Linked DNA regions of Homo sapiens: region 1 is linked to region 2. The links come from fine-mapping of genetic effects on gene expression. A gene starts in region 2. The other region holds a variant in brackets. All regions are shown on one strand. Distances are between the middles of the regions.

Region 1 (5,376 bases), 270 kb after region 2:
CGTGTTGGCAAATTACAAGCTTTCAGGTGAGACTCCCTTCATTTTGCAGTGGCTGCGAGGAGCAGGTTTAATTAGCGCACAGACCTGCTGGAAAAATCCAGTGTTATTAAAAGCCTTGTTCCATGTGGTGGCTGCTGGGTTGTACCGGTCTCCTGCCCTCAGCCCCTTCCTTCCTGAAGCCACCCAACACCCACCCCGGCATTACTTTGCCATTAATCCCAAGGTATCCGGGGAAAAATGACAGAGAGGTAAGAAAAATCACATGGAAGGTAGAATGTCCAGATTTTTCCCCAATGAGATGAAAAACTCAGGGTCTCATCTCTGTGGAAAATCCCAGTATCTGTCCAGGAGCACTGGGCCTGGCCTTGACCTTGGCTTTGACCTTCAGACGACTGCTGGGGAGATTCCTTGAACATGGAGTCTAGGGCCTGGATACTGGGAAAAATCAGACCCTTCTACTCAAAACCAAAAGACCACAGGCTTTGGAGTTAAGACAGGGTGAAGGGTGAGTCCCAGCTCTGCTCCTCACTTGCTGTGTGACTTTGAACAAATGGCTTAACTTCTCTGGCCCTGTTTCCTCAACTGTTTTTTGTTTTTTGTGTGTTTGTATTGAGACAGAGTTTTGCTCTGTCGCCCAGGCTGGAGTGCAATGGCACAATCTTGGCTCATTGCAACCTCCACCTCCTGGGTACGAGTGATTCTCCCACCTCAGCCTCCAAGTAGCTGGGATTACAGGCATGCACTACCACACTGGCTAATTTTTGTATTTTTAGTAGAGACGCGGTTTCTCCATGTTGGCCAGGCTACTCTCAAACTCCTGACCTCAAGTGATCTGCCCACCTTGGCTTCCCAAAGTGCTGGGATTACAGGTGTGAGCCCCCAGGCCCGGTTTTCCTCATCTGTTAAATGGGGTTCACGACCGTGACTCCCTCATGAGCTGCTGTGATGCTTCATGAGATGAGGAGCTTCACATCTGGCACAATTAATGGCCCATGGTCAGCTCTCAATCGGGGGCATTTGTTGTGAAGGTTGTGTGGCACTATGTGTCACTGTGGCCACACTGTTCTCATTATTACATATATGAATCTTACTCCACAACCAAGTGTGCAAGAAATCTCACCAGGCCCAACCCTACCAGAATGATAAGAAATTAAGACTCATCATATGAATGGCCGCCTCCACACCTGCCTGGGGTCACACAATAACCCAGAAGGCTTGTCTGATATCTGGAGAATGAGGAAGGGGCCTGGAGGCTTCCATCCTCCATGGTCTCAGCTCACCTGTTCTTTGTCCAGGCCCACCTGATCTCCAAGAGGTGGACAGTGCTGTTGCCTGAGCCCAGGTGTGTCTTCAGTGAAGTCAGAAGCTCCAGTGTTCAAGGTCCAGACCCTCCACCACCACACGGCACCTATGTGCCCTCTTTAGTCCTGCACCTCCTCACGATGCTGGAACAGTCCAGGCACAGTTGTCCTGCAGACCTCTCCTTCCTAGGTTTGGGGAATTGCCCAATCAGCTCTCTTCTAGAATGTTCCACAGCCTCTTCCCCAATTCCTTCCATGAACCTTCTGCTTGAGGAACAAGAGTCAAGAGGGAGGTTTGCTTCCTGGTAAAGCTCTGGTTTCCTTTTGCATACAAATTGCCCTGCAGCAAGGGAGCTGGAGGATGGGCTTCCTCTTCGAATAGGAATGGGAAACTGGGGAAAAGTGTACAAGTCGCTCTGGTCTGGGATTTTACAAACACAAATTATTATCTCCATAGGGCGTGCCACACCATTATTATCAGTGCATCTGCAACAGGGGAGGCGTAAGGAAGATGCTTTCTGTGCATCTGACCCCCAACTCCCACAGCCTGAACTAAAAATATCACCTGCAGTGAGCCTGAGACATCTACATGAGCAGCAGTGTGTGTGTGTGTGTGTGTGTGTGTGTGTGTGCACCTGCATCTCTGTGTCTTGATGCTGTGTGGTGTTAATTCTTTGACTGCATTCATTCACCAAGGCCTGAAGGCATAGTATCCTGATTGACCAGATCTGAGTCACAGGCTCACATGCTGACCCTTGGAATCAGAGTGGGGTCAGCCCCACGTGAGTCTCAGTGTCATGGACTCAGAGTAGGGGAGAGAAAGGTGACCCGGGAGAATGGGGGTGTTTAGAGGGGGTGGGCCAGGAGGAAATCAGGAGCTCAGTCTGGAGCATGCTAGGCTGGAGATGTCTGTTAATCATCTGGGAGCTACCAGAAGAAGGGGGCATGAATATGCGCAGACAGCAAGGCAAGAGGCTATTGCTGGCAGATAAACATCTAAATTCCTGCACTCCTGTATCAGAAGCTGAATTAGGGTGCAAGCGTGTGGGCACCAGTCCCTTAAATTACCCTTCTTTGGAAGGAATAATGGACTTGGAGTCAGAAGACTAGATTTCAAGACTAGCCTCTGCTTCATACTGACTGGGGGACTTCTCTGGGTTTGTTTTCTTGTCTGCAAAATGGGATATAATAAACTACTACTTTAGGGTGGTTATGGAGCAGTGCTGTCTGATAGAACTTCCTAGAACTTTCTATTTAATATGGTAGCCACTGGCCACATGTGGATATTAAGCAATTAACATATAGCTAGTGTGACTAAGGAACTGAATTTTTTATTTTATTTAATTTCAATGAATTTAAATTCAAACAGCCACATATGGCTAACAGCAACCATATTGTACAGTGCAGTTTTAGATTATTCAATTGGATCATTACAGTTTGCTTTGTAAACTGTGAAGTGCTATAAGGGAATATTCATTGCATCCCTTAATTGAAAGCTCCAATGATGAAGCCAGGTACTGTGTGAATAAGTCTTGCTCATGCTCATAATTATTGTAACCACTGATCTAAGTGGGGCCTGAAATCCTTAAAATGGTCTTATTTCTGGACATCTCCCTTCACATTTGAAGGATTAATATAATGGATCTCTCATGAACCTATACAGAATCCCAGTAAGAAATTATTGCATGGATGGATGGTTCGATGGATGGATGGACAAGTGGACAGATGAATGGATAGGTGGATGGATGGATGGACGTACAGATGGATGGGTGGAAGGACAAATGGATGGATGTACAGACGGATACATAGATGAATAGATGGGTGGATGGATGGGTGAATGGATATATGGATAAATGGATGGTTGGGTGGATGGATGGATGGATGGATAGATGGATGGATGGATGGATGGATGGATGGAAAGATGAGTAGAAGAACATATAGAAGGATACATGGATGGATGGATGGATGGATGGGTGGGTGGATAGATAGATGAATCGGTGGGTGGATGGATGGATGGGTGGATGGATGGATGGATGGAAGGATGGATGGATGGACAGATAGATGAATGGATGGGTGGATGGATGGATGGATGGAAGG[A/G]TGGATGGATGGACAGATAGATGAATGGATGGGTGGATGGATTCATCCATTCATTCCTTCTGTCACCTGCTATGCACTAGGCATTATTCAAGTAGTTAGGGATAGAATAATAACACAGACAAAGCTCCTGCTTTCAGAAAGACTGTATTCTAAAGGGGAGAGTCAGATGTTCAAGAAGAAAACAAATAGCATAAAGAATTTCTAGTAGCAGTAAGCACTATGAAGGAAAATAAAGTGGGGAAGAGGGATGCAGAATAATGGGGCTGCTGTTTCACATAGGGTGGTCTCTTTGGTAAAGCAGCATTTGAGAAAGCCTTGAGGGAAGGGAGGAAGTGAGCTATGCAGAGATCTGAGGGAAAAGCAGAGAGAACAGAAGAAGGCTAGCATGGCTAAACCAGAGTGTGGGAGGAGAGGAAATGTAAAAGGAGAGGAGGTCAGAGGGAGCCAGGGGCCTTTCAGGCTTTTGGAAGACTTTGCTTTCCTCTCAGTGAAATGAGAAGCCAGTGGTGGGCTTTGAGAAGAGGAGGGATTGGATCTGACATATATTTATGTTGTGTTGAAAATAGACTCTAGGGAGGAAAGGCAGGTGCCGGAGACAAATAAGGAAGCTACTGCAATCATCTAGGCATGAGTTTGTGGTGGCTGGGACCAGGGAGAGAGCAGTGCAAAGTGGGGCAAAGTGGCGAGATTCAGTATCTAGTTCAAAGGTAGAGCCAGCAGAACTGACGTGGTGGATGTGGTGGGTAGGAGAAAAAGGAGAAGTCCAGAATGATTCCAGAGATGCACCCTTGAGTAACTGGAAGGAAAGCACTTGTCATTTCTTGAAATAGAGAAGACAGGGGCAGGAGCGAGTTTAGAGGGGGTGGGCCAGGAGGAAATCAGGAGCTCAGTTTGGAGTATGCTAGGTTAGAGATGTCTATTAATCATCTGAGAGTTGACTGTCCAAATTTCAAGGGAGAGGACAGGGCTGGTCATATCCATTTGGGAATCATCAGCATATACAGATGATATTTAAAGCCACGATACCAGACAAGTGAGTACAGATAGAGAATCCAAGGATTGAGCTCTGGAGTCCTCCAACATTTGGAGGTCGGAAGGGGGAAGAGGATCCAACAAAGGCTACTGAAAAGGAACAGCTGGTGAGGTAGGAAGAAACCAGTAGAGAAGTGACATGTGTCCGGAAGAGAGTGTTCAACTGTTAGATGCTGCTGACAGATTAAGTAAGAGGGGCTGGAAAGGTGACCACTGGATTTAATAATGTCATTGGTGACCTTGAGTTGTTTCAGAGGAATGGTGGCATGAATCGCTAGCTAGCTGGCTGACTGGATGGATGGATGGATGGATGGATGGATGGATGGATGGATGGATGGATGGACAGATGGATGGAAGGCTAACTTAACTACTGCAGCTAACTTAACTACTGCAGGTAACTGCACCATCTTGTCACCTGTGACAGCAATTAAGCAACTGTTGCCTGACACTCCGTGTGCCAGAACCAAAAGCTGTCAAAACCAATCTCCTTCTCCATTCACCCAACTTTTTGGATCCAGCCCAGAAATCCTGGTGTGACCTGTGTTTGCTATAAGATGAGAATCTTGACATCTTCTGGTTTGATTATCCTTCTCTGGATTACCCATAATGCTCTTGGTCGAATGTTTCCCCTTTTAAGGTTTGAGAAGGGAAAGGAAAGGAAGAAAATGAGAGGAAAAAAAACTAACTCTGGGATCCTAGACTTACTTGGTTTTGTATTTCCATTTGCCAAACTGATGCTTTGCCAAATCTCCCTTCCTTTCTGGAAGAGCAGATTTGCGCAGCCACCTACCTCTGCAAGTGGGGGTCCCTGGAGATTCCTCCATGTTAAAGCCAAATGAGGAAAGGTCTCAGATATATCTGTAAATTTGTGGCCAGGTGCGGTGGCTCACACCTGTAATCCCAGCACTTTGGGAGGCTGAGGCAAGCAGATCACCTGAGATTGGGA
Region 2 (5,376 bases):
AGTATACCCGCAGAGGCTAATTGATTGCAGACTTTCTATCTAAGATCTAGTCCTTTGGTGTGTGGGTGAACATAAGGACACACAACTGGAAAAAGCCCCTTTTTTTCATGTTAGGAAAAAAAACTCTCAAAAAATAAAATTCTTAAAATCCTAGGAGGCACCCCAGGAGTTTCTAAAGCAGCTTCTTGAAACCTCAAAAATAGAGGGATGAGAAGGGGCTCAAGGAATGAGTCTTTTCTTTTCTCCTTATTAGATTTTTTTGTTTTGATTTGATTTGAAGATTCCGGTGTGTGGGAATAATCTCACTGAAGAGCAAAATGAGTAACACTGGGTCACTTTGTTTACTACACAAACACACTCACACGCATTCATTTACAGAACACTTACTACGGGCTAGGGCGGCAAGGACGCAAAGATGAATGACATAAAAAGCCGGATAACCCTCCTTCCCCCACCCACAAGTTCCCAGTGAAGTGGGAGAGAGACATATAAACAGATAAATTACTGTTTCTTCTGCTGAGTGCTATACCAGAGGTGTGAGTGCACGCACACGTGTGCGCACACACACACACACACACACACACACACGGCCCTCTAAATAGAGCTACTCTTAACTGTTTGCTCAGAAGCCCTAGTTCCAAAACATTCCCATCCTCTCTATTTGTGTATTTGCATATATGACTTTTTGATTGAGGTAAAATTTACATAACATGAAATTAAGCCCTTTAAAGTGAACAATTCAATGGCACTTAGTACATTCACCGTGTTGTGCCACCACCACCTCTGTCTAGTTCTAAAACATTTTCATCAGTCAGCACAAAGTAACACCCGGCACCTATTAAGCAGTTACTTCTCATTCTTCCCTCCCCACAGCCCCTGACAAACACCAATCTGCTTCCTGTTTCATGGATTTATTTATTCTGGATATTTCATATAAATTGAATCGTATAATATGTGACCTTCTATGTCGGGCTTCTTTCAACTAACATAATGTTTTGGAGCTTCATCCACGTAGTAGTAGCATGTATCAGTACTCTTCACGGCTGAGTAATATTCCATTGCATACTGCAATTTGTTCATCCAATCATCTGTTGATGGACATTTGGGTTATTTCTGCCTTCTGGCTACTAATGAACAGTGCTGCTATGAACATTCATGTACAAATTTTTGTTTGGATATTTGTTTTGGACATATACCTAGGAGTGGATTTGCTGGGTCGTATGGTAATCCTATGTTTAACTGTTCAAGGAACTGCTAATATGTTTTCCACAATGGCTGCACCACGGCATCCCCCTTTTCAAGACCCACACAGCTCTGTAGTTTTGATGCTCTCCCCATAACGTAACTGAAAGACTGCAAAGAACTGAATCCTGGTTTGCAGATACACTAAGCAGTTCTAAGTGCCTTGGTTGGTCCAGTTGGTAAGAACTTGTGTTAATGAGGTTAAGGTCAGGGTTCGATCCCCGAACTGACCCATTAGCTGAGCAGAGCGGACAGAGTGAAGAATTGTGTCTTCCTGCCACATGCTCCACCATCAAATCCTGCCCTCTTGCAAAAGCTTGTTAGTGGTCACAGGGGAATGGAGCAAGACTGTTTTTATGGTTCCACAGAAAAGGGGGGAGAAATCTATCATCCAAGGCCTCCTGAAGGCGCAGCAGGAGGAACTTGCAATCAGATGATTACTTTCTTCCAGTCCCGCTGTCACCTGGTTTCTGCGGGCCCCTTAAGTAAATTGCTTAACCCTATGCAGAGCCTCAGTTTCCTTATCCCTAAAATGGGAATAATAATCCTCACTCACAAGAGATAAGAATGCATATAAAAGCACTCTACACGCAGTTTTTGCTTGGTTCTTATGGGCTTCCTGTAAGAACCTGAAGGGTGGGCAGCCTCATTTTTCCTCGCAGCACCCCACTGGCTTCTGCAATCTGCTCTTTGCTGCTCTCCGGAGGTTGACTGAGCTGGAATGATGGCGCCCTGTTGACCAGAGGGTTGCTGGCTGTTTTAAATTGTCCTATTTGCATGGAATGAAGTTTGCTATGGTAACAAGGTCTGGTGGCTGGAATCCAGGGCCCCAGTGAAAAATGCAAAGCCTGTGGTCTGGGAGAGAAAGAGGAGCTGGAGAGGGCATATCAACGTCAGGTTACCTCAGTTCTTCTGTGAAGAGGGGATGGGTAAACTGAGGCAGCAGGGCTCAACTCTTCTGCTCCCAGTAGAAGAAAGGGAAGAAGCCCCATCGACGCCTTCCTTCTTATCTCTCAACCTCATCTCTGTCCCCGCCAATATTCAGCCCGGCTAAGAAGCTTAGGAGCTGGCTAAGGCTGCTCCTCCACCTGGATGCACACACAGGGCTAGGGCTGTGGAGAGGCGGGAGCACCAGCGGCCCACGCCGAGGAAGATAGGCGCTCCCTCCTGGGGTGGGCAGCGCAGGTCTGGCCTGCGGGTGGGGGGTGGAGAGTGAGAGGCACGCGGGGCACCAGCTCAGCTCCCCTCTGGGGATTTCGTACTCGCAGTTTAAGGAACCGGTGGAGCACGAACTCCACTCCTGAGCTGGCGCAAGCGTCTCCCTTCCATGGAGATCCACCCCGGCTCCCCTCTGAGGCCCCCTTTCCAAGCACCCTCTCTTCCGAGCACCCAGCACCTCCCCAACCTTAGCACGGCTCGGGGCACCAGTTCTCCAGGGCGGGGGCTGCCCCACCGCTCAAGGGAGGGGACAGAGGGCCGGCCTCGGTCCAGGCGACCCCTGCCCCTCGCCAGGGGCGCCACCTTGGCCCCCTCCCGACTGCCGTCCGCCGCCTCCGCCCCCCCGGGGGGTGTGTCTCCGAAGTACGGGGGCGCGGGAGGCCAAGGGTGCCCCCAGCCTCCGACCGAGACCCCCTCCCGAGCCGGCGGCGAATGGTAGGCTCCATTTAAAGAGTGCCTGGTGGCGCGCGGTGTCCTTCTTGGAGCAGCTCTCGGCGCCCGCCCGCCGGGGTCTCGGCGATCGCTGCTCCTCCTCCTCCTTCTCCTCCTCTTTTTTCTCCTCCGCCTCCTCCCCCCGCCGCCTCGCCACCGCCGCGGCTAGGGCTGGAGGCGCCGCTGTCATTCCTGTGCCGGAGGAACCGGCGCTGCCGGTGCCTGGGGGTCGGGGCGCGGGCGAAGCCGGGCCGCGGAGGACACAACAGGTAGAGCCGGGGGTGCCCGGCCGCGCGCCCCCCGCGCATCATGCAGCTCTTTGTCACCTCTCTCGCCCCCAGGCCAAAATCCTGAGCATGATGGAAGACAATAAGCAGCTCGCGCTCCGCATCGATGGGGCGGTCCAGTCGGCCAGCCAGGAGGTGACCAACCTGCGAGCCGAACTCACGGCCACCAACCGGAGACTGGCGGAACTGAGCGGCGGCGGCGGCCCCGGCCCGGGCCCGGGAGCCGCGGCCAGCGCCTCGGCGGCGGGGGACTCGGCGGCGACGAACATGGAGAACCCCCAGCTTGGAGCGCAAGGTAGGATCGCCCCGGCGCCCAGGGCGGAGGAAGGCGAGCAGAGCACGCCCGGCCTCGGAGGTGGCCGGGGACCCGGGGTCCCCCACACCCGGGGCGAAATCGCTTTGCATTCTGGCTTGTAACCCTTTCCGCCCGGCGGTGGCCACCGCTGCTCTCCGGCTGGGAGTTGCAGGCTGCTGTCATTCACGAAAACCCGAGCGCAGTGTGCACGGGGTCACACGGTCACACCGGCCCCGGCCAGCCTGAGCGAGGCGCAGCCGGCGGGTCCCTTCCGGCATCAGAAAGTGCCCTTTCCGTGGCACCAGCCCCCTAGCTCCGTGCAAACTTTTCATGCCGGGGCCTTTTCCCCACCCCCCGCAGGGGTGAATGGCACAGTTCCCCCCACTTCCTTAGGCTCCTTCCCAGAGAGAGCTCCGGGCTCTGCCGCCGTGGTTGGGATAGAGGATTGCACTGCTGTGCACTTTTCTCCGCGGATGCCAAATCCCTTGGCTCAGTTGCATCTGGACTTTATTTTCTTCTCATTTGAGGTCTCTCAGGCATTGGAATCTATAGATGCAACAGTAGATGCTCAGCTCAGCAGGGAGTTTAAATTTCCGCAAATATAAACACCGAGAGCACTTTCCAGGGGGATACTGTAGACCTCAAAGGTTGAGCGGTAGAGAAATGAAGGCTTAGGGTGGTGGGCTGCAGGGAGCCCGTTTGAAGGGACTCTGCGGTTTAGAGAAGAGGAAGAAAAAGACAGTTGGTTTGTGTTCACATTGACAGAGATTAAGCTCTGAAACCCCCTGCAAGACATAAAGGCGGATGGGGCATTCCCTAAAATGTACTGTTTGGTTTCTGTGACTTAGAAAGTAAAAGGGTAAGCAGGCTTTGGGGGATTTTTTTTTTCTTTTTGCCTAATTGCCCTTTAAGAAACAGTATCACTGGTTATTAATATCATTTGAATTGCAAATTAAACTGCTGAAATCCAGAACAGGACAGAAACAAATCTCCAGTCCATGAGGTCCACTTGTCTAAATATGTCACTTGAAGTGCAAGGTACCAATTGCTCAGTGGCTCAAAATGATTTTCTGGTTCTGTTGTCATTTCAAGAGCTTCTCTTGAGGGTTGAGAGAGTCTGTTTTCCTAAGAATCTGGTTCTCTCCATCAGTCTCTGTTTCCACCTTATCTTCCTGGGAAGGTGTGCTTTCTTTGAGGTGAGATGTGAAGCCTGCCCACGTGCAGTTTTATGTCGAATTCCAAGTCAGATCTTAACTTGGTACTCCCGGAGCCTGTTGGAAGTCTTAGGAATTGGGGGGAGTACTTTGGTAAGGAAGTAGCCATGACGTAATGGTGAGAAGGTGTTGTGGTCCTAGTGCTTGCTGCAAGCTTGACATGTGGTTATTCTTGTCATCCTTGCAATGTCATTGTGTGCGAAAGAACATTCTCCACTGGAACCTGTGCAAAAAAAAAAAAAAAAAAAAAAGACAGACTGCAAGGTAATGCTTCACTTTTTATAGGCAGAGGCTCTGCTAACATTAAAGAAATAGCTAAGAACTGGCATTTTGCTAAGAATCAAAAGCTGTATAGTAAAGGACACTGAACAATGCTCGTTTATTTCCCACTGTCTGCCCCTTTCTCCGCGAAGGAAAAGTTAAGTGGCTTTTTATCTGAGTCCTGGGTCTGGTTGTAGACTGGGCAGGCTAAGGCAGTCAACGCAGTAATGATGTCCACATGCTCAACTTGAAAACTGACATACTCGCGGATGGTTAAATTGTTGTAGTGGAGCAACAGGGGGCTGATTCCTTGTTCTTTTTTCCTACACAAATGCACAGGGCTGTGGAAATGAAAATGGCTTTTGGATCTCTTGGATATCCTTAAAAACACATAAAACCAGCAGCTCCCATACGCTCTCAGGACTGT

Evidence for each region.
Region 1: its variant is fine-mapped to the expression of KAZN in whole blood (INTERVAL, PIP above 0.99).

The regions. Positions count from the first base shown.
Region 1 is chr1:14,869,750-14,875,125 of GRCh38, forward strand. All of the region lies in intron 1 of KAZN (kazrin, periplakin interacting protein), which reads left to right. Among named protein-coding and RNA genes, the nearest start is that of KAZN, 270 kb to the left of the region's middle. The variant A/G (reference allele first, on the strand shown) is at 3,399.
Region 2 is chr1:14,595,750-14,601,125 of GRCh38, forward strand. KAZN (kazrin, periplakin interacting protein) reads left to right here and starts at 2,936. Exons shown (of 15, transcript NM_201628.3): 1 at 2,936-3,474. The coding sequence starts at 3,249. RefSeq lists a silencer at 3,603-3,762.